7 linked regions of the Homo sapiens genome follow. The protein of the gene in region 4 interacts with the protein of the main gene of each other region in a pairwise test. Each region holds a gene or a part of one and is shown on either strand. Other genes may lie near its edges.

Region 1 (3,631 bases), on a different chromosome or scaffold from region 4:
GCTGGAGTGCAGTGGCATGATCTCGGCTAACTGCAAGCTCTGCCTCCCAGGTTCACACCATTCTCCTGCCTCAGCCTCCCAAGTAGCTGGGATTACAGGTGCCCGCCACCACACCTGGCTAATTTTGTTTTCGTATTTTTAGTAGAGACGGGGTTTCACCGTGTTAGCCAGGATGGTCTCCATCTCCTGACCTTGTGATCCGCCCGCCTCGGCCTCCCAAAGTGCTGGGATTACAGGCGTGAGCCACTGCGCCCGACCGGTTCACATTATTAAAATAAACTTAAATGTTATATAGATGTTATTAATGAAAGCCCAATTTAAAATAAGAAGCATGAGCCAGGCAGAGTAGCTTACACCTGTAATCCCAGCTACTTGGGAGGCTGAGATGGGAGGAATGTTTGATGCCAGAAATTTGAGATCAGCTTGGGCAACATGGTGAGATCCTGTCTCTCAAAAAATGATATAAAATAAGAAGTATGAGTTGATTATATACCATTAGTATGGAATGCTAAGTGAAGGTTCTGACTACTTACTACACTATAGCGTAAACTATTACAGTCAGACTAACAGGAGCAGGAATTCTGACTAGTTTTGGTTAGTTGATTTTTAAAAATTTATTTATAGCAAAGAATGAAAAATTTATTTAGATACTATAAACACTTACTTTTTAAAAAAATATATAAATAGGCATTAATTCTCCAATTTTCCAAAGTAGTCCCAAGGGCTGGGCACAGTGGCTCACACCTGTAATTCCAGCACTTTGGGAGGCCAAGGCGGGCAGATCACTTGAGCTCAGGAGTTCAAGACGAGCTTGGGCAACACAGAAAAACCCTGTCTCTACCAAAATACAAAAATTAGCCGGGCGTGGTGGCACACACCCGTAGTCCCAGTTACACGGGAGACTGAAGTGGGAGGATCAATTGAGCCCGGGAGGTGGAGGTTGCAGCGAGCTGAGAGCAAGCCACTGCACTCCAGCCTGGGTGACACAGTGAGATCCCATCTTGAAAAAAAAAAAAAAAAAAGACAGAGTAGTCCCAAGACTGTACTTGAGGAAGAGCTCCTCACCAATATTTTTCTGCTATAAACCATACCTAGAACTTAATCTACAATTTCCAGTTTTAACTTTCTAAGTGAATTAAAAACAAAGCAAAACAAAATAAAACAACTACACACACTTTTAAGGCAAGCTCAGGATATTTTTCAAGTTTTTACAATTTCTGTTTTTATTTTTGAATTTTTTTTTTAGACAGGGTCTCACTCTGTCATCGAGGCTGAAGTACAGTGGTGCAATCACAGCTCACTACAGCCTCGACCTCCTGGACTTAAGGGATCTTCCCACTTCAGCCTCTGGAGTAGCTAGGACTACAGACGCATGCCACCACACCCAGTTATTTTTTAAATTTTTTGTAGAGATGGATGTCTCACTATGTTGCCCAGGCTCGTCTTCAACTCCTGTCCTCAAGTGATCCTCCCACTTAGGCTTCTCAAAGTGGTGGGATTACAGGCGTGAGCCACTGCACCCAGCCATCTTTCTGATTTTTTTAGTTTTCCTGACCCCTTAGTGACTCACTTTTATGGAACCTTTCCAAAGAATTCAACATTCCTTTCACAATAACAATATTCTTTTTTTGCACTTACGTTTCATAAGTTCACGCATATCTAAATTATCTATCACAATAACAAATATAACTGGCACTAACATGTTTGCAATAAATACAATAAATTGTTGTTAAGCCAATAACCCAGCAGTTGGAGAAGGAAGAAGACTACTAGAAGCCACTGTTCATCATGCCTGGGCACCACCCCATGTGCTTATAGGGAAATGAAGAGCATAGGCTCATTGGTCAACTGTTAGATGTCAACGGTATTGTATTTGAATCAGGATGAACCATATGCAAACTGCCAACATCCAACTGTTTATTCACCTACAGAAAGGGCAATTGCATATGTTCAACCATATATATATATACACATTTTATTTAAAAACACTGACTATATTTTATGTTAAATATCACATCCACTACCATTTTTTTCCTTTAGAAGAATGAATAGTGGTTCTCACAGCTTGATTTAAAAAATTCCATTCCACATTGGCTCAGGAACTCACCCTAAGCTACTGAATAATTCGTCATTGGACTCTGGATTCCTAGGAATGCCATTTCTATCTTCTTTCTTTCTTCAAGTTAAAGTCACACCTGTTAGTCACACACGAAGAAGAGGATGAAGGATGAAGCTATCAGCTGTGCTTTCTAGCTAACTGAATGATAAGCAGCAAAGGGATTAAAATGTGGGTCAACATTGTTCGTTGGCTGGTTTATTTCTGAGACATAAATCTTTCTGTCCTACAGGATGCAACACAGCACTGTCTGCCTGAAGAAGGTACAAAAAGACAGGTAAGACTCTGAGGGGCAGAGAAGCCCCTGAACAGACTTAAAATAAGTCACCCTTAAGTAATAAGTGCCCTTTACTTTTGTTCTGCCCTTGTTAGAGCATTTAATTAAAATAAACACACAAACAAATCACAAGCGTGCTATTAGGACAAAACCCAAAAATTTGGGACAGAAAGAAGGAGAAGAGTTGGGGGATGGGGCTGTATTTAGATTAAGGGCTGCTAGTGAAACTCTCTTTGTCTAGATCTCACGTTTCTACCATTGACACTAAAAAATCTAAATTGGGTTTATTTTTATGGTTGCCCTTACGCCCTCACAAAACTATTGTAAGATATCAGAGTCCTAGGGCCTCCTATATTCTCAAAAATATCAACCCAGAGAGTTAGTATTCAGAGTGGGGAGAGCCTAAACCTTGTAATTACACCTAGGTTTAAATCCTGGCTGCATACTTCTACCAGTGTAGCCTGAGCACCCTTTCTGCTTTTTTCACCTTTCTGTACCTGTGCATATGATGAGCCAGACTTTGCTGGCTTCAAAGGATTCATTAGAAAATACAAGTAAAGAGACTCACTGCAGGCTGGGTGCAGTGTCTCACGCCTGTAATCCCAGCACTTTGGGAGGCTGAGGCGGGCAGATCACCTGAGGTCGGGAGTCGAGACCAGCCTGGCCACCACGGTGAAACCCCGTCTCTACTAAAAATACAAAAATTAGCCGGGCAGGCGTGGTAGGGCGGGGGGGTGGGGGGGGAGTGGGGGGTGGGGGTGGCGCTTGTCAGGAGGCTGAACCAGGAGAATTGCTTGAACCTGGGAGGCAGAGGTTGCAGTGAGCCAAGATCACAACATTGCACTTCAAACTGGGTGACACAGTGAGACTCCACCTCAAAAAAAAGAGAGATTCATTGCAACTATTACTTATGCCTAAAAGATGACAAACCTTTCACCCCATAATTTTCAATAAGATGTTTTAAATGTAAATGCAGCCTTGAGTATCCTGTAAGGACAGAGGTACAGATGATGCCCATGAAGTTGATTTTCTGTTTCAAAATTCACATGCAAGCTAAGCATAATCAAGATATCTAATGTAGGCTGGGCGCAGTGGCTCATGCCTGTAATCCCAGCACTTTAGGAGGCCAAGGCAGGTGCATCACCTGAGGTCGGGAGTTTGAGACCAGCCTGACCTAACATGGACAAACCCCGTCTCTACTAAAAATACAAAATTAGCCAGGCATGATGGTGCATGCC
Region 2 (3,500 bases), on a different chromosome or scaffold from region 4:
CCCAGGCAGGGAGGCTGTGGGGATGCAGAGTTCCATCAGGGGCATCTGCTCAGAACTTGGGCCTGGACCTGTGCCTGAGATTTCTAGCTGTGGCACCCTCAGATGTTTCTGTCCCAGTACAAGGGAAAGGAGCTCTTGTTGGCATCTTCTCAGAATGCCAGTTTTTGTGACCTTCACCTCTCTCCACCCAGCAGGCCCCGGGTGACCCCTGTGAGTGTGCACGGGATGGGTGTGTGTGGGTGTGGACAGGCCTGTGTATTTTTCATGACAGGGCGTGAGCTTAGCCCACAGTCGCCAAGGCAACGCCCTAGCCTTTGGAGGTGGGACCCAAGCTTGGTTAGTCGGGCCTAGGAAGCCCCACCCAAACAGCTGAACTCTGACCAGCTGCTAGAGGTTGTCAAGTAAACAGTTATTAATTGCCTGCTGTGGCTGGCCCTGCACTAGATGCAAAAGGTCCCGTCCTTGGTCTCACAGGACATCCCAAAGAGAATGGGACCTGGTTCCAGCTCCCCGCCAGGCCCCATCCCCCAGGATGGTCCACAGGCTGGGGCTGGGGCTGTAGGAAAAGACTATGTTCTGTCTTTATCAAGATGCAGAGGGAAACAGAGGCATGGATCAATCAGGACTGGGGCTGCCAAGGCTAAGAAAGGAAGCGTCACAAGGCATAGGCTCAGGGCCTGAAGCCAGCAAGTCTGCCCTGGGGCTTTCTGGCCAGTGAGGACAAAGGGCATCTCAGATGTGTTTATTGATACCTGCCCCCGCAGGAAGTGTCCATTCACATCAGACCAAGGGGGCTGGGAAGGGGAAGCCAGGCTCTATTGAAGGAAGCGGCACTTCCAGCACCTTGGGAAAGCCTCCGTGCATCCGGGGCTGGAGCTGGAGGCTAGCATGCCTCCCCAGGGAGGGCCTAGGCAGCTGGCCAGAGGTCCCGGCCCGTGGATGCTTCTGTGGATGAACCCCTCCCAGACTCCCCAGGCCCTTTTGGAGGAGGACTGTGTGCAGCTCAGGCTCCCGGCTCCAGCCAGCCACCCTCACGCTTCTATGCTGTGAAGACGTCCTCAGGGTCCAGCTCAAGTCTTTTTGCCCCCTACTACTCTGTGCCAGGCATCATTCTAAGTGCTTGTTTGTTTGGTTGGCTTTGTTGCTGTTGTTGTTGTTGTTGTTGTTTGAGATGGAGTCTCGCTCTGTTGCCCAGGCTGGAGTTCAGTGGTGCAATCTCAGCTCACTGCAACCTCCGCCTCCCAGGTTGAAGCAACTCTCCTGCCTCAGCCTCCCGAGTAGCTGGGACTACAGGCACCCGCCACCACGCCTGGCTAATTTTTGTATTTTTAGTAGAGACGGGGTTTCACCACGTTGGCCAGGCTGGTCTTGAACTCCTGACCTCATGTGATCCACCCGCCTCGTCCTCCCCAAGTGCTGGGATTACAGGAGTGAGCCACTGTGCCTGGCCGTTTGGTTGGTTTTCTTTAGTGAGCTAGGGTCTTGCTCTTCACTCAGGCTGGAATGCAGTGACAATGAGATCATAGCCCACTGTAACCTCGAACTCATGGGCTCAAGTTATCCTCCCACCCCTGCCTCCCAACTAGGACTACAGACACATGCCACTATGCCCAGCTAATTTTTAAATTTTTCATAGTGATGGGGTCTCGTTATGTTGTCCAGGCTGGTCCCCTGGCTTGAAACTCCTGGCTTCAAGAGATCCTCCCACCTCAGCCTCCCAAAGTGCTGGGATTACAGGCATGAGCCACTGTGCTCGGCCTCATTCTAAACACTTTTACATAGATTAGTTTATGTAATCCTTCCACCCTATGAGGTAGGTACTAGTATCATCTCCATTTTACAGATGAGAAAACGGAAGCACAGAGAGATTAGTATCTTGCCCACAGCCTCACAACTAATAAGTGATGGTGTCAGGATCTGAACCCAGGTAGTCAGCCTCTGGAGGTCTGGTGCCATCTGACTACTCTCTAGAGAATAGAGGTAGCTGGGGACTGACTGGAGGCCCCACCTCCTTCTTGAAGACGGACAAATGTCATGACCAATGAAAGCCCAGCTTGCCTGGCCACGTCTACCACATAGTTTTACTTTTGGTTTTACATTAAATAACATTGAATCATATATAGAAGAGGTTATTCCCTTTACAATTATTTCAGTCCTGATTACATCAAAGAGAAAGTCTCAGTTTGATGCTAATATGTCTCTAAAACATTTGCTAATCTCCTTTTCTTTTTAAATTTTATTTTATTTTAATTTTTTGCAAGGGAAAGCAGCAGTTTTCAGACTCCGAGCCTTCCCAGGCTAAAGTTTCCAACTAGAATTCAATACCCTTATATGGTTTTCCTGTTACGTTCTTTTATGGTTTTGTTCTATTTATGACAAGTGATACTGGCTTTCCACTAATGACAGCGATAAAAAGTTTCCTTTTAAAGATCTACATACTCAAATAAAAGAATGAGTAGATTTAAAGAAAAAAATAAGTAAATATTATGAAAGGCAGACACTGCAGAGATCACAAAGGTGATAAGCAAATGACTGAAGCTAGGGAAACACCATCATGGAATTAACCTTCAGAGGAGGGTGGTCAGCCTCACTGAGACCACGTCACCCAACCTGTCCATTGCACAGACAAAGGGGAAGTGTGTGTTTGTGTTCCCATGATGAGTGAACAGCAGAGGCAGGGTTTGACCCCAGGTCCCCATGGGAAATAAGATCCTACGCAGAAAGGCTAAAGGAATGGGCTTGCTTGGCTTGGTAAGTAGCAGAGCAACCTCATTATTGGATTACTGATGAGAAAGATGGTGGCCACTGTCTTTGTCTTTGGTGATGGCCAGCCAAAGTGAATGGACCGAATGTAAAAAGATCAGATGTAAGAAAGATCCACCAAGATAAGCAAACCCAGGGCCAGGCTTGCCTTCAAGTTGCAATGTCCCCATCTCCTGACAACTTTAAGAAGAGAACCTGTAGGCACCTCCATGGGCATTTCAGACTGTGAGGGCCTACAGGGGCTCACAGGTAGCTGGACGCAGCCCATGCACCCTTCATACTCCAGGCTTTGGAGAATCTAGTCCCAGTGAAGCTCACCAATGCCTTCCCAGGCCCTGGGCACTCCATTAGGCCCTGTAGAGAGCAAGCAGCTTAGATAGAAAGCCAATGGCATGTGGCCTGCAGAAGCCAAGAAATACCATAATATTACACAGTATTCACGAGGAGCCGGGTGCTGTGTTAAGTGTTCGTTCATTGGCTCTTCACAGTTGCCCTCCAAGGGAGGTGGTATCATCTTCCCACTTTAGAGGGAGGGGAACTTGCTCAGGGAGACTGAATAACTTGTCCAATATCACAGAGCAGTAAATGGCCATCTTGGGATTTAAGCCTAGGTCTGAGTGACTCACAAAGCCCAAGAGTTAAGCAAGGGGCTGTACGGAAGCCCTGGCATGCATGTCCCTGGCTTTGCCATATACAGGCATGCTGGGACTGCAGCTAAGGGCATCTGTGGGGCCACT
Region 3 (3,374 bases), on a different chromosome or scaffold from region 4:
GTGATCCGCCTGCCTTGGCCTCCCAAAGTGCCGGGATTACAGGCATGAGCCACCACGCCTGGCCTCATTCTCCACTTTTGATGTGTAAGTCCTTGGCCTGCCTTTAGCATGAATCCTGTTAGGTCACTTTATCAGGAATACTCCTATGTTTGATGTCTCTCTTTGGTAATTTCCCATCCTGTGATGTCCTCCTCCTGCTCCTGGCTATAAATCCCCACTTGTCCTTGTTGTATTCAGAGTGGAGCTCAATTTCTACTCTCTATTGCAATAGAGTCTTGAATGAAGTCCTCCTGGCCATTTTAACAAGTGTCAGAATAATTTTTCCTTTAACATTTGCCATGCACTTTGTGGATGACAACCGTGGGTAGCCCACTGCCAACTGCCTTCTGGGTCATGCTGCCTCTCCTCCCTACTCCAGGAATCAGATCTTATTCCAGCCTCTTGAGCTCCTCTTCCACACCAGCCCCTAGCTGACATGTGTGGCAATACAGTTCTTGTAGGGTCAAACCTAGAGAGGATGGGGCAATTCTATTCCAACCAACTTCACCTAGTTCATTCAGTCAGTCAGATAAGCAAAACATCTGAATACATTTAAGTGGTTTCTCAACATAAATAATACATTTTCAAAGAGCTTTCTTATTCATATTACAGACATAAACAAAATACATACACTCAAGGCACAAAATATATACACTCAAGGCACAAAATATCTGTCTTGTGCTATTTCAAATAAAAAAATCATAGCAGATATAGATCTTTGGTGTTCCAATGGTGCCATAAACACGTGATGGCCTTTTTTTTTTTGAACGAAGAATTGTGTGAGATTTTACCTCTTGGGTTCCAAGTATGTTTTTGTTTGTTGGTAGAGAGACTTTGTTGTAAAAGTCTCCTCACCTATAGCTCTGGTGATTTTTCATGTTTTATTCATCTCTTTCATTTGGCTTCAAGTGAAGGAAGAACGTGATAAAATTCAAAATTTACTAAATTTCTTGTTAATGTCAGATATGGAACTTTCCTCTTGACTGTCTCTTTTCATTGGCGGTGTTACTGAAGGCTTCTGTCGGGAATGGTGCGCCAACCATTCGTTGGTTCTCAAGGCTTTGCAGTGGAGGCAGTGCCTTTCGCTCATTTGGTAACTTCCCAGATTCCTTTGCCTCTGAGCCATTTTTCTCCTCTTAATACTGTCTGGTGATGGGTGGTGTTCACTTTCACTCTCCTTCCACGAGGAGGCTTCTGAGTTAGACTCTTCACTGCCATACTCCGTAGTATCACTGTCATGTTGGTTCTGGTTCACCTCATTGAACTGAGACTGGCGCCTGGCTCGTCTTTGTTCAGGATAGGCATTGACCAAAGCCACTTCTGAGTTGGTTACAGGGGTAAGTTGGTTCTGCTTTGGTTTCTTCATTGTTTGTGAGGGATCCCAGGCACTGTCTTTGCTTTGCCGCTTACAGGAAGTCTCTTTGCTTGCTAACAACCAATGAAACATATCAAGTTAGTAATATTGTTGGTTACTATGAATTCCTATTACTTAAGAAGCCTGTGCACGTGTGAGCTCACTCTTAGTGGCCAGTTGTCAAGCCATTGCTTTTCTCCAGTCACCTGCAAGTGTTGGCAGCTGACTGCATTTTCTAGTACCATATCCCAACTCCTGCAGACCAGAGAGCTTAGATAGATGCTTGACATATCACCATATCACTTTTGAAGTTTTGTGGATGCTAAACATAAGGTCAAAGGAAAAGATCTCTAAACTTTTCCAGGGAAGAACTCTTTTTTCCCTTTGAAAATTGAAGTCTTACAGATTCAAGCAGGTATATGAATGTGATTTGGGGAGCAGGAACTAAGAAGGATCTTTCCTTTACGTAGTGGTGTGAGGAAGTTGGCTTGTACCTGCTCAGAAGAGCTGATAAACTTTCAGGAATTTTGAGAGATGGTTAAACATAGCCATTATTAAAAATTAAATTATACCAACTTACAATAAATTAAGTTACTAAAAATAGAGGTAATACTCAAAACCCATCACTTCCTAATTATCTTACTACATTTGTTTATGCTATGTGCTCTTCTGGTTTTTTATGTCCGTTGTATTTGGATGCTGGAAACTCTATGCTGTTTTTTTGTTTTGTTTTTTTTTGTTTTTGAGATGGAGTCTCGCTCTGTTGCCCAGGCTAGAGTGCAGTGGCACGATCTCGGCTCACTGCAATGTCTGTCTCCCAGGTTCAAGTGATCCTCCTGCCTCAGCCCCCCAGCAGCTGGGATTATAGGCACGTGCCACCATGCACAGCTAATTTTTTTGTATTTTTAGTAGAGACAGGGTTTTGCCATGTTGGCCAGGCTGGTCTCGAACTCCTGACCTCAGGAGATCCACCCTCCTTGGCCACCCAAAGTGCTGAGATTACAGGCGTGAGCCACCACGCCCGGCGGAAATTCTATGTTAAGGGTGCACTACTGCACATCTCCTCCCAACTCCATGTTCAATGACATGAGGTGGATAGCTTAAAATCAGCTTTGGTGGAAGTATTTATACCACGAAAATCAGCAGACACTAAACATCAGGGCTTGATGTATGGCTTTGTTGATTGTCTAGGCTTAAGAAAATGATGGAGAACATGTTACTAATGCAGATTACATATTACATTTCAGTATCATCCCTGTAGCCACTACATTGTGACTAACCCTGCAAAATGAGGAAATATTCTTCCAGTATTTTAGAACTATTATCCATTCCAGCAAAGAAGTCACTCACATCACTGACAACCAAGTTAAGTTCCAACATACATCTATCTTCTGCTTCATTTTCATCTCACTCCTTAACTTAGAGGAAAATAACATTCACGCTGGAACTATACTTGTTCATCAATTGCAGCCATGGTTGGCTAAGGTGCAAGGGTCTGGCAAAAATGAAGGAGAGCGTTTTGTGAGAATCAGTTGTCTATATGAAATTGGCCATAAGGAGTATTGTATATTTTATTATTTTAAATGGTGTGATATATATTTATTTATTTTTATTTATTTATTTATTAAATTTTTAGAGTCAGGGACTCACTGTGCCGCCCAGGCTGGAGTGTAGTGGCATGATTATGCCTCACTGGCAGCCTCGAACTCCTGGGCTCAAGTGATTCTGTTGCCTCAGCCTCCTGAGTAGCTGAGACCGCAGGTGCGAACAACCATGCCAGCTAATTTTCTTTTTTAAAAAGACAGGGTTTTGCTATGTTCTCCAGGCTGATCTTGAACTCCTGGCCTCAAGCAGTTCTCCTGCTTCAGCCTCTGGAGGTGCTGAGATGACGTGCAACCTTTATATCAGTAAAATTTTTAGTAAGCATATGTACACACAGGAGTTTTGGAGAACCAGTTGTTAAACATTTACCAGTGCACCA
Region 4 (2,910 bases):
GGATATCTGATGCTATGTATCAACTGACATTTGATATATACACTAATAGGAAATGTTTCAAAAACAATAGCTAGTTTAATGTCAAAATGGCATGAGTATATCCATTCACCGTGGAAATGGGTTTGTTCTCATATTTGCTTTCCAGTCCATCCAAACTCCTCCCTATATGGTGGCAGAAGTTTTAGTGCAAAGCCATGACTGCAGCCTTTTGTGTGACTTGCATGGAAGATTTGGGGGCCCCATATTTCTTAGATGTGTAGATGTCTTTTACAGAAAATTTTGCTAAAAGAGAATTTTGATTGAATCCTGTTTTCTATTTTTTGTTGTTGTTATTGAGACGGAGTATCACTCTGTCACCCAGGATGGAGTGCAATGGCGTGATCTCCGCTCACTGCAATCACCATCTGCCTCCCGGGTTCAAGCGATTCTCATGCCTCAGCCTCCGGAGTAGCTGGGATTACAGGCGTGCACCACCATGCCCAGCTATTTTTGTTGTTTTGGTAGAGATGGTGTTTCACCACATTGGCCAGGCTGGTCTGGAACTCCTGATCTTGTGATCCGCCCACTTCGGCCTCCCAAAGTGCTGGGATTACAGGCGTGACCCACTGCGGCTGGCCCTGTTTTCTAATTTTGATTATAAAACCTAAACCAAATTGTGGTTTTTAAAAAATTTAGTTGTGGCTGGGCACAGTGGTTCACACCTGTAATCCCAGCAATTTGGGAGGCAGAGGCAGGCGGATCACCTGATGTCAGGGGTTCAAGACCATCCTGGCCAACATTGCGAAACCCCGTCTCTATGAAAAATACAAAAATTAGCTGGTTATGGTAGTGGGCACTTGTAATCCCAGCTACTCGGAAGGCTGGGGCAGGGAGAATTGCTTCAACCTGGGAAGCGGAGATTACAGTGAGCTGAGATCATGCCACTGCACTCCAGCCTGGGGGACAGAGCAAGACTCCATCTCAAAAAACAAACAAACAAACAAACAAAACTTTAGTTGTAGGCCAGGTGTGGTGGCTCATGCCTACAATCCCAGCACTTTGGGAGGCCAGAGCGGGCGGATCACTTGAGGTCAGGAGTTCAAGACCAGTCTGCCCAACATGGTGAAACCCCATCTCTATGAAAAATACAAAAATTAGCCGGGCATGGTGGTGCACACCTGTAATCACAGCTACTTGGGACACTGAGTCAGGAAAATCTCTTGAACCTGGGAGACGGAGGTTGCAGTGAGCCGAAATTGTGCTGCTGAACTCCAGCCTGGGCAACAGAGGTGAGTGAGACTCCATCTGAAAAAATAAAAATAAAAAACCTTCTCAAAAACAAAAAATTTAGTTAAGTATCATAAAGACATCCTGAAGGTAGGGGAATTTTTAAAAATCTGTTTTGGAGAAAGATTACATACTCTGATCATAGTTGTGATGCTACCAGTATAATGTTTTATACCTGAAGCAAGGAAGTCAGTGTGGAGCAAGGTCTAGAGCAGTAAACTGAGACGCTGGAGAGTCTACCATTAATCAGATCTGTGATGGTGGGGAGGCCTTGCTCTCTCTTGCCTCCATTTCTTCATCTCTTCAAATTATTGGCAGTTGGGTTAGGATCCAGCTCATGTGTGCTATTTTAAGACTCCCTTGGCTTGCTTTTTCTCTGGTTCCTCCAGGGATGGAAATTTACCCCTGACCACTCTTGCCTTAGTACCTCCTCCCCCACGCAGTTGTGAGGAACCAGCAGTTTAGTTCCTTAAAAACATAGTTGCCTGTTCTGTCCTTTACCTGACATTTTCTATCTTGTTTCTTTTAAACAGTTTGCTGATGGTCGCCAAAGTTGGAGTTAGTATGTTCAACAGACCCCATTAGCAGAAGTCATGTTCCAGCTTAGACTGATGAAGAATTAAAAATCTGCATCTTCCACTATTTTCAATATATTAAGAGAAATAAGTGCAGCATTTTTGCATCTGACATTTTACCTAAAAAAAAAGACACCAAACTTGGCAGAGAGGTGGAAAATCAGTCATGATTACAAACCTACAGAGGTGGCGAGTATGTAACACAAGAGCTTAATAAGACCCTCATAGAGCTTGATTCTTGTATATTGATGTTGTCTTTTCTTTCTGTATCTGTAGGTAAATCTCAAGGGTAAAATGTTAGGTGTCAGCTTTCAGGGCTCTGAAACCCCATTCCCTGCTCTGAGGAACAGTGTGAAAAAAAGTCTTTTAGGAGATTTACAATATCTGTTCTTTTGCTCATCTTAGACCACAGACTGACTTTGAAATTATGTTAAGTGAAATATCAATGAAAATAAAGTTTACTATAAATAATATTTCCTATGGGGTCTTCATTGCCAGAGCTGTCTAGTTCATAGAATGAGATATTGCTAGCAGCAAGATATAGAAACATGAAAGTATTTTGTTAATATTTAGAAATTACCTATTTTGAATAACTTAAGGACCAAGGAAACTTATTTGATTGTACATTGCATTGAAGCTTGTTTCAAAAATGACCTCTGAGGATTTTTTTTGTTTTTCAAGAGACAAGGTCTTTCTCTGTTGCCTAGGCTGGAGGGCAGTGGTGCAATCATATGTCACTGTAGCCTCAAACTCTTGGGTTCAGTCATCCCACCTCAGCCTCCTGAATAGCTGGTACTACTGGTGCATACCACCACACCCAGCTAATGTACTTTTTTTTTTTTTGGAGATGCAGTCTTGCTCTGTTGCCCAGGCTGGTCTCAAACTCCTGGTCTCAAGTGATCCTCTCGCTTTGGCCTCCCAAAATGTACTGGAGTAATAAGCATGACCTACTGTACCTGGCCACTGAGGTTTTCTTCTTTTTTTTTTTTTTTTGAAACGGAGTTTCGCTCTTGTTGCCCAGGCAACCTCTGCCTCCCGGGTTCAAGCCATTCTCCTGCCTCAGCCTCCC
Region 5 (2,985 bases), on a different chromosome or scaffold from region 4:
GTTGGCCACCAGGGGCTACTTTGCCATTGGCACAAAAATTTCATCCTATTAATGACATATTAAATTCTTCGGAGTTAAAAAAAGTGCCCCTAGCCTGAGAATTATTGGTTCCCTCTAATCCTAAGGTGGACTTCAACTTTGCCTTCACAGAAAGTCACAGAGGAAGGGGAGAGTGAAGGTTTCGGGGGATCCTGAATATAACCTCTTTCCTTAGCCTAGTGATTTCTTCACATTCATTACCCTAAAACTGCTTTTGTTATCCTTTACCTTCCAAGATCTCTTCTTTGAAATGACTAAATTGATCATAGTTATTAAGTTATACTTCTTTCCCCATTTTTAATTAATCGTAAGTCAGATCTGCCAACCAGGAATATTATCTACATGAGAAAATTAGTTCCATGCCACTGAGATTTAAACACCAGCCAAAAATGTAAAGTCTATATCAGCCCATTCACAGCCTTACTGTCCGTTAATGTATTTTTTCATTAATAAGCTTTTTATTTTTCTGTTTTTATTCCCCAATAATTCCACCTAGACTCTAGGAATCTGAGAATCCCAATTTGGAAGCCACAATTCTACAACAGAGCTTCTCTGAGGCAAGGGTTTGGGGTGCCTAAAATCTGTGTTTTTAAGTGATTTTGATGCATCTGGTCAGCTTATAATTTCTTCTATTTGGAAAGCTCCTCTCCATCTTTTAAACACCACTCCCTCTTCTACAGACAATTCAAATGTACTTCTAGCAGATCCTAGTAAAGGGCTTGGGTTTTTAAACTGGACTGTTGGAGTTCTAATCGTGGTTCTGCCCCAACCTTGTTACTTGGGTAACCTTGGACAGGTTACTTAAATCTCTTTAAGCTTAAGTTCTTTATGTGTAAAATAGGGGTAATAATAGCATCTACCTCATATGGTTGTTGTGAGAATTAACTGTGTTAATACAAATAAAGCAATAAAGATAGAGCTGGCACACAGTAAGTACTCAATTGCTGTTATTACTTCTATAATTCTCCTACCGCTTCTAAATCACTGTAGGAGCTCTGGTTAGGACTCTACCATCATATAAAGCAATTCTATTTTTAAACCTGTCTTCCACACTCGATTATAAGTTCCACAAGAACAGAGATCATGTCTGCTTGACTTTTGTATCCTCAGTGCCCAATGTGTAGCACTGATGGATGCTCAGTGATATACTGGAAAAATGAATTACCCACCAACCCAGGGAAAAACAAATTGTCATTTCTTTTTCGTTGAAGATTATTTCACAATTACTCCATGAGCCAAATTCACAAAACTGTAGGCTTCTAACACTTCTATAATGGGTATATTTACGTTTGGTAAAATAGGAAAATCCTATATTAGAGGCCCGTTCCTAGTGAAGTATAATAGGCAAATAAATATAGCTGTATGTGAAGGAACTGGACCTAATGCAGTCTAGTTCTGAGAGTTGTATTAAGGTCATATTTCTTTTACCCATCTTTTTTCAAAAACAGGAACATGTGTTCTAGCAAATGGAGTAGAGGGATCACTTAAATAAAAATTCAGTTTGTCATTTATCCAATAAATACTGAGTGGCTATTTGCATAGGAAATAGGAAAAAAGGATTACTTTGATAAAATCCAATCATTCATTTGTTCAACAAATATTAATTGTGTGCCTACTTAGTGCCAGGTGTAGTTCTAGGCACTGAGGATTTGGCAGTGTATAAATCAGACAAAGTTTCTGCTTTTAAAGAGTCAATATTCAAGATTAATATTCTTGTGAACAGCAGATAATATCACTCACTAGGTAAAGAATATGGAAGCTTGATTAGCTTAGAAAATATAATTACGGCTTTGGCATGATGGCAAACTGGATCACTTTTATATTGGGATGGGGATCATTACAATATGGCTTATTGATTCATGAATTTAAATAAACTGTGACTAAAAAGTACACGTAGCAGTGAAAGGACCTTTAAGGGAAGTGATCTATTCCAAAGTAAAGTAGAGAAAAACATGAGAGAGAAGAGAGACTACATTAGATTTGTTGGCCTGATTCCAACAATCAGAACTAGGACTAGGTAGAAACTCCAGGGAAAGAGACTAATCACTGATTTCTCCTCAGGAGATGGACATTTGCGCCCTGCAAATTGTAAACTCTTCCCAGCGTACAGAACTATGCAGCTGGAGAGCAGCTCCAAATGAAGCGCAATGGCAGCGCTTACAGAGAGAGCTGTGAGTGGCATTACCTGTGGGAACTTGACAATGATGTGGTGGGGAATGCTCATCACATTGTGCACAAAATCAAACGTCTCGGTAAGTTTCATTTTATTTGCAGTTAACATCTTTGGGATTCTGGTGATCATATGTTGAATTTCGTTATGTTTAAAACCAAGTTCAAGACGATAAACCTAAAAGAAAGTAAATTTGCTATGAATCGTTATGTAGAAATAGTTATTTTGGTACCATGGCAAGGCTGCACTGATTTTTTTTTTTTTTGAGATGGAGCTCGCTATGTTGCCCAGGATGGAGTGCAGTGGCATGATCTCCTGCCTCAGTCTCCCAAGTAACTGGAACTACAGAGGAATGCCACCACACCTGGCTAATTCTTGTATTTTTAGTACAGCCAGGGTTTCACCATGTTGGCCAGGCTGATCTTGAACTCCTGACCTCAAGTGATCCACCCACCTTGGCCTCCCGAAGTGCTTACAGGTGTGAGCCACCGCGCCTGGCCATGATTTTTTTTTTTGAGACGGAGTCTCGCTTTGTCATCCAGGCTGGAGTGCGGTGGCACGATCTCAGCTTACTGCAACCTCCGTTTCTTGGATTCAAGTGATTCTCCTGCCTCAGCCTTCTAAGTAGCTGGGATTACAGGTGCCCACCACCATGCCTGGCTAATTTTTGTATTTTTAGTAGAGATGAGGTTTCACCATGTTGGCCAGGCTGGTCTCAAACTCCTGACCTCAAGTGATCTGCCCACCTCGGCCTCCCATGCCAGGGTTACAGGCAT
Region 6 (3,631 bases), on a different chromosome or scaffold from region 4:
CCATAAAAGCTGTTTCTAACTTCAAAAATATTATGCAAGTCAAAGAAAACATTTCGCTAAAAACACTAAAATCAAAGTTTGACACATCGGAACTCTATTATCTACAGTATTTAAAACTACATGAAGCAAATTCTAAATTTTAACATAAACATAAATTCTAAAAGTAACAAATACATATACAAAAAAAGACTTTAGAACAAGGTTTTATGATACATATGTGAGAATTTTAAAAAATCACTATACGACAAATTGATAGAAAGAAAAAAATGTATCGAAAAAACAGTGTGATTTTATTGCAGTACACTATTTTCTGACATTTCAATTCAGATCTAGAACCCCATATTACAGCAAAATCATTATCTAAATTTACTGAGTATGAATAAATAGTGAGAAGGCCAAGCTTGGGTTTATAGCCTGCTTTTAAGCCCTGATCAAGTCAAATTCTTAGTGTCCATTTTTTCATCTCTAAAATATAAGGGGGTAAAATAAGAATGTCTCTAGGTCCTTTTCTATATTAAAATTCTAAAATTCTTACTATGCATAATCAAGAAGAACTAGGGGGATAAAAAGAGATGTAAAATATTCCAGTTCAGCATACAGCACAATAGATAATCCTTGCTAATCTGTACATACAGCTTAATTGGAAAATTAAGAACTCAGCAATTTCTATAAATGGTCTAGATTTACAGTTATATTTATTTAGGCCAAGAATGATGGTATTAGGGAGCTAAGTATTCCCTCAGTGAAAAAGTTCATAGCAAAGAGGACAAAACAGACCACTAGAAACATTGTGTACTGTATCTTATTTTAGACTTGGCCACAGCAAACAATTTACTAATAAATTTGAAGTAAAGCTTTGATAGGTTGTATTTGTGATGCTGAAAAAACACAGATGGACAAGAAATCAGTTCCAATTAAAGGTTAACTCTGTGGAAGAATGGTGGGAGATGAATAGGGGGCAGGAAGTTTCAAGGATTTGTTACCTACTTATTAAAATAAAATTGAAATATGATGACTAAAGATTAATATTTATAAAACCTGGCAGGCATATGGTACTTATTATATCTTTCTTTTTGGTTAAATAACAGTAAAAACATTTTTGTTAGTTATGTATGCATAATATATAAGAAGTTATATAACATGTATATTTTCATATAAACAAAGAATTTTGTTGCCAAAATTTGTATGCAAAATTTGTTGCATGAATTTCTTCAAGACCCAGGTAAAATTACACCCCTTCTAAAATCCTCTTTCCTGATTCTCATTAAAAATCTTAAAAATCATATTTCAACTCTTGCATATTCGATCATTATATTTTACATGCACTATTTCATCACCTAGATGCTATGTTATAAATAACAGGAGCTCAAAATCTGTAGATGAGAATGTGTAAGGGTTAGAATCTGCTATAAGGCCCAGAGATTTACTGAGCATCATAGCTTCACAGACCTTGTGTCCTGTACTCAGGATGAAGGCTGCTCCCTATAAGCTAAATAGATTGCAATAGATTAACAGTTTTTAATGTTAAAAATGAAAATATAAAACTACAAGAAAAAAGTATATGTGAATGTAATCTTGTAATGCTGATGAACTTTCTAAACATTACACTGAAACAGTAATATATTTGAATTTAAAATTTTTATTTAGTCTTATTGATTGATTGATTGATTGATTGATTGAGACAGGGTTTCACTTTGTCACCCAGGCTAGGCTGCAGTGGGGCAACCTGGGCTTACTGCAGCCTCCACCTCTTGGGCTCAAGCGATCCTCCTGCCTCAGCCCCCCAAGTAGCTCGGACTACAGGCACATGCCACTACTTCTGGCTAATTTTTTAAAACATTTTTGTACGGATGGGGTCTCACTATATTGCCCAGGCTGATCTCAAACTCCTAGGCTCAAGCGATCTTCCCAAGTGCTAGGATTACAGGTGTGAGCCACCACACCCAGCCTGAATTCAAACATTTTAAATGTTTATATTTAAAAAGCACAAAAAGTTGAAAATATAACAAATGGAAAGAAAATACTTGCAATATTATACAACTGATCCTTGAACAACACACGTTTGAACTGCACAGTTCTACTTACACACAAATTTGTTTTTAATGAAAGTTACACGTGTGCCTTCCTCTCCTGCCTCCTCTGCCTCCCCAGCCTCCATTTCCACCTCTTCTGCCTCTGAAACCTTCCTGAGACAGTAAGACCAACCCCTCTTCCTCTTTCTCCTCAGCCTACTCAATGGGAAGAAGATGAGGATGGAGACTTTTATGATGATCCACTTCCACTTAATAAATAGTCAATGTATTTTTTTCTTCTTTTTAATTTTTTTTTTTTTAGACAAGAGTCTTGCTCTGTCGCCCAGGCTGGAGTGCAGTGGCATGATCTCAGCTCACTGCAACCTCTGTCTCCCAGGTTCAAGTGATTCTCCTGCCTCAGCCTCCCAAGTAGCTGGTATTGCAGGTGCCCACCACCACACCCAGCTAATTTCTGTATTTTTAGTAGAGACAGGGTTTCGCCATGTTGGCCAGGCTGGTCTTGAACTTTTGACCTCAAGTGATCTGCCCACCTCAGCCTCCCAAAGTGCTGGGACTACAGGCGTGAGCCACCGTGCTCCGCCCCTTATGACTTTCTTAACATTTCCTTTCCTCTAACTTTAAGAATACAATAAATTATACATATAACATAAAAAATATGTGGTAACTGACTATTCATGTTATCAGTAAGGCTTCTAGTCAACAGGAGGCTATTAGTAATTAAGTTTTTTGGAAGTCAAAAGTTATATGTGGATTTCTGTCTGTGCTGGCAAGGCAGGGTTCAGTGCTCCTAAACCCTGCGTTGTTCAAGTGTCAATTGTACTACAGAGAAACAGTAGCTACGACAAACACTTAAAATTTCTTTTTAAAAATTCATTAAGAAAACACACCTGCCCCAATAGAAAAAACACAACAGTAATCAATGGACAACTGCTGAGAGAAACAAAAATGCGCAAGGAAAAAAAGTTAATCTTCCTAGTAATAAAAACAAAACAAAACAAAAAAAACCCCAGAAACTCAAAGCAGAAAGCAGGTTCCCCTATAATGTGAAGGAGATGAAAAACCGATGACTCTTGATTTTCTCAGTGAAAAAGGCACTCCAACGTACTGTTGGTAGGAGTAGAAACTGTGTTTTCTCTTTTTTAATCCTTTCTGAGGAGCAATTTGGTAACATATTTTTAAAAGATAAACTTAGGAACAATAAAATTTCAAGAGTTTATTTCCACATTCATTGATTCATGAATGGAGCCGTACCAAACTGAACCAAAATTCATGAATGGGGCCATACCAAACCCCAAATAAGTGGGGTTCAGTACTCCACTAAGGGGGATGAAGCGTTAAACTTTTATAAGATCTTGACTGCTGACCTAGACTGGTGCCTTAACACTTGATCTCTGACTCCTGCCTTGTCCTTATCACACAAATCTAATCCCTGATTCCAATGTCTGGAATAATATGCTCACTAGGAAAGGATCTAAGTGAGGAGAGGTGAACAAATACAATGGGTACTGGGGTACAGAATGTATTAAACAAATCTGCAAAGTAATCTCAAATATAGTATATTAATAACCATCATCATCTCTTTTACAAATTCACTCCTC
Region 7 (2,810 bases), on a different chromosome or scaffold from region 4:
CCATCTTGCTTTTCTGTGGAACCTCAGAGGCCAGCCTCGACTTCCTGGAGACCCCCAGGTGGGGCTTCCTTCATACTTTGTTGGGGGACTTTGGAGGCGGGCAGGGGACAGGGCTATTGATAAGGTCCCCTTGGTGTTGCCTTCTTGCATCTCCACACATTTCCCTTGGATGGGACTTGCAGGCCTAAATGAGAGGCATTCTGACTGGTTGGCTGCCCTGGAAGGCAAGAAAATAGATTTATTTTTTTTCACAGGGCTCCAGTCTCTTGATGTGTGAGTGTTGTTGGGCTGGTCTTGGGCTGGTTCCAGGGAATGGAAGGGCTAAGAGATGGGCTTGGAAGGCAAGTTTCTGTTTGAGGCTCCATTTCCTTGCTGTGGAACCAAGGAACCTGCCAGCCCTGCTCCACCAGGTAGAGCTGGGAGGTTTCTATCGTCATCTGAATTAAACAGGGAAGGGACACTCGAGACTGGGGGACAAACAGGAAAAAAGAGCCAGCAAAGACTGGTAGTAATTTATTGTTACACACACACACACACACACACACACACACACACACACACACACACTAGGTTAACATCAACCACCGCACCATCCAGGCACTCCCCAGCCACCACGTGTGGGCACAAAGACACACACACCCCTCTTGGTAGGCAGATTTCCCTGTCTGCTCCCCTCTTCCTGTGGGAGAGGCATGCCTTCTGGGCAGTTTAAAGGTGGGAAGTTACAGGGGCCTAAAAAGGTAAAAGAGCAGCAGCTCTGCACTGGCCAGCTGTAAACAGTAAATAGGCCAGTCATGGAGGGTCCTGAATCCAGATCCTCAGGAAGGTTTTCACCAAACACCACAGTCCCATTTGATGTGATGCCCAGCCTCTATCCTTAAGGCATTTCCAGCGTCCCTGAGGCGCTCTGCTTAGACAACTGGCACAGAAGTGGTCAGGGCCTTGGCTGTGGCTCTGCCTCCTGCCTCACGGGAAGCCGGGGAGTGGAGCAGAGACCAGCATTAGGGAGCCTTGTGGCAGTGGTGAGAGGCTGCTCAGGAAGGAGCTGTGCCTCTCCCCTGGTCCTGGCCCCATGCCCTCAGCATCCTTAAGAAACACGGCTGTCCACCTTTTTCCCTGCAAGAAAACTAAGTCCATCCCTTATGACTGTCTCGGGCCCCAAAGGTGAAGGGCAGCTCCGGCAAGGGGAGAACTCCGATTGATTGGAGTCCCTGTTGGGGCAGTAGCAGGGTTCCACCCACCGCGGTCCTAGGCCTGGGGGCGAAGTCCAGGCCTGGCCACAAGGTTCAAAGATGTGTCAGACCCAAGCCGCTACCCCCTACTCCGAGGGCGAGGGCGGAGAGGCTCAGCCCCAGGGGCGGGGCCTGTAGTCGGAGGCCGAGCGGGCGTGGTCCGGGTAGTCCAGGCGGCTCTCGGTGGCAGTGAGCATGCGCTCCGGCTCCACCACGAACATGTAGTAGAGGTTCCACATCAGCATCGACAGCAGTGGCAGAAACGTCAGGCCGTAGCCGAAGCCTCGGAAGGAGCGGCCCACGGCAAAGGTCAGCCAGTAGATCAGCCTATGGGGGCAAGAAAAGGGTCAGGCTACTCTCGAGGGAAGCGCGTCAGCTGATTGGCAATAGGCTGACGGTGGGGGGAGTAGATAGGGGAGGCAGATGCAGTTGGTGGGTATGGCTGGTACTTCCAAATACAGCCAAAGTTTATGCACTTAACATGTATTAGGCACAGCGCTAATTACTATAAGTGATTGATTTGACTTCCCCACATCTTTATGAAGTTGAGTATGTTATTCCTTTCCCTCTTTTATTTACTTTTCGATTTATTTTTATTTTTTTAGAGACATGGTCTTGCTATGTTGCCAGTCTGGGCTCAAACTTCTGGCCTTGAGTGATTCTCTCACCTCAGACTCCTGAGTAGCTGGGATTACAGATGCGGGCCACCACACCTGGCTGTACAAACTTTAAAATGTTTGAGCAAATTCAATGAGTATAGTAAAATATCTTCCTCCCTTTACCGATTCCCACCCTATTCTCCCCCACCCCCACCCCAGGCATCAATATTATGGTTTCTTGTGCACTGAGTGATTTTTTAAATTATTATTATTTTTTTATTTTTGAGACAGAGTCTCTCTCTGTCACCCAGGCTGGAGTGCAGTGGTGCGATCTCAGCTCACTGCAACCTCCGCCTCCCGGGTTCAAGCAATTCTCCTGCCTCAGCCTCCTGAGTAGCTGAGACTACGGGCGCCCGCCACCATGCCTGGCTATTTTTTTGTATTTTTAGTAGAGATGGGGTTTCACCCGAGATGGTCTCAATCTCCTGACCTGATGATCCGCCTGCCTTGGCCTCCCAAAGTGCTGGGATTACAGGCGTGAGCCACCGCGCCTGGCCTATTTTTTTTTTTTTTTAAATTATAGATGGGGTCTCTGTCAGCCAGGCTGGAGTGCAGTGGCAGCCCCCAACTCCTGAGCTCAGGCAGTCCTCCCACCACAGCCTACCAAAGTGCCTTGGCCTCCCAAAGTGCTGAGATTACAGGTGTGAGCCACCATGCCCAGCAGATTTTTTTCTTTTATTTTTTTCTTAAAGACCAGTGTGCTTTTCTTGGAGAAAGAAGAAAAGAAGAAAGAAGGAAGAAGAAGAAGAAAGAAAGGAGGAAGAAGGAAGAAGAAGAGCCAGTGTGATAATACATTGAGTGATTTTTTAAAAAGTGCATATATGAGCAAAAAGTTATTTTTCCCTTTTCTGAAGTATGGCAGCATACTATATAGACTGTCTCTGCATGTTTATTTTTCCCCCATTTAATATATCCTGGA

What was found.
Region 1: the proteins of TMEM14C (region 4) and ELOVL7 interact in binary tests that used the Homo sapiens proteins (3 or more experiments, as listed by UniProt).
Region 2: the proteins of TMEM14C (region 4) and VSIR interact in binary tests that used the Homo sapiens proteins (3 or more experiments, as listed by UniProt).
Region 3: the proteins of TMEM14C (region 4) and SSMEM1 interact in binary tests that used the Homo sapiens proteins (3 or more experiments, as listed by UniProt).
Region 5: the proteins of TMEM14C (region 4) and MTERF3 interact in binary tests that used the Homo sapiens proteins (3 or more experiments, as listed by UniProt).
Region 6: the proteins of TMEM14C (region 4) and ARL13B interact in binary tests that used the Homo sapiens proteins (3 or more experiments, as listed by UniProt).
Region 7: the proteins of TMEM14C (region 4) and TMEM79 interact in binary tests that used the Homo sapiens proteins (3 or more experiments, as listed by UniProt).

The regions. Positions count from the first base shown.
Region 1 is NC_000005.10:60,834,187-60,837,817, forward strand, and holds part of ELOVL7 (very long chain fatty acid elongase 7), read right to left. Parts: intron 1-3,631. UniProt on the Homo sapiens protein: Catalyzes the first and rate-limiting reaction of the four reactions that constitute the long-chain fatty acids elongation cycle.
Region 2 is NC_000010.11:71,767,021-71,770,520, forward strand, and holds part of VSIR (V-type immunoglobulin domain-containing suppressor of T-cell activation precursor), read right to left. Parts: intron 1-3,500.
Region 3 is NC_000007.14:130,214,067-130,217,440, reverse strand, and holds the end of SSMEM1 (serine-rich single-pass membrane protein 1), read right to left. Parts: intron 1,468-3,374; coding exon 971-1,467; 3' UTR 597-970; downstream 1-596.
Region 4 is NC_000006.12:10,728,816-10,731,725, forward strand, and holds the end of TMEM14C (transmembrane protein 14C), read left to right. Parts: intron 1-1,799; coding exon 1,800-1,851; 3' UTR 1,852-2,312; downstream 2,313-2,910. UniProt on the Homo sapiens protein: Required for normal heme biosynthesis.
Region 5 is NC_000008.11:96,241,695-96,244,679, forward strand, and holds part of MTERF3 (transcription termination factor 3, mitochondrial isoform 1 precursor), read right to left. Parts: intron 2,387-2,985; coding exon 2,225-2,386; intron 1-2,224.
Region 6 is NC_000003.12:93,983,057-93,986,687, reverse strand, and holds part of ARL13B (ADP-ribosylation factor-like protein 13B), read right to left. Parts: intron 1-3,631. UniProt on the Homo sapiens protein: Cilium-specific protein required to control the microtubule-based, ciliary axoneme structure. May act by maintaining the association between IFT subcomplexes A and B. Binds GTP but is not able to hydrolyze fit; the GTPase activity remains unclear.
Region 7 is NC_000001.11:156,290,134-156,292,943, reverse strand, and holds the end of TMEM79 (transmembrane protein 79), read right to left. Parts: intron 1,560-2,810; coding exon 1,346-1,559; 3' UTR 501-1,345; downstream 1-500.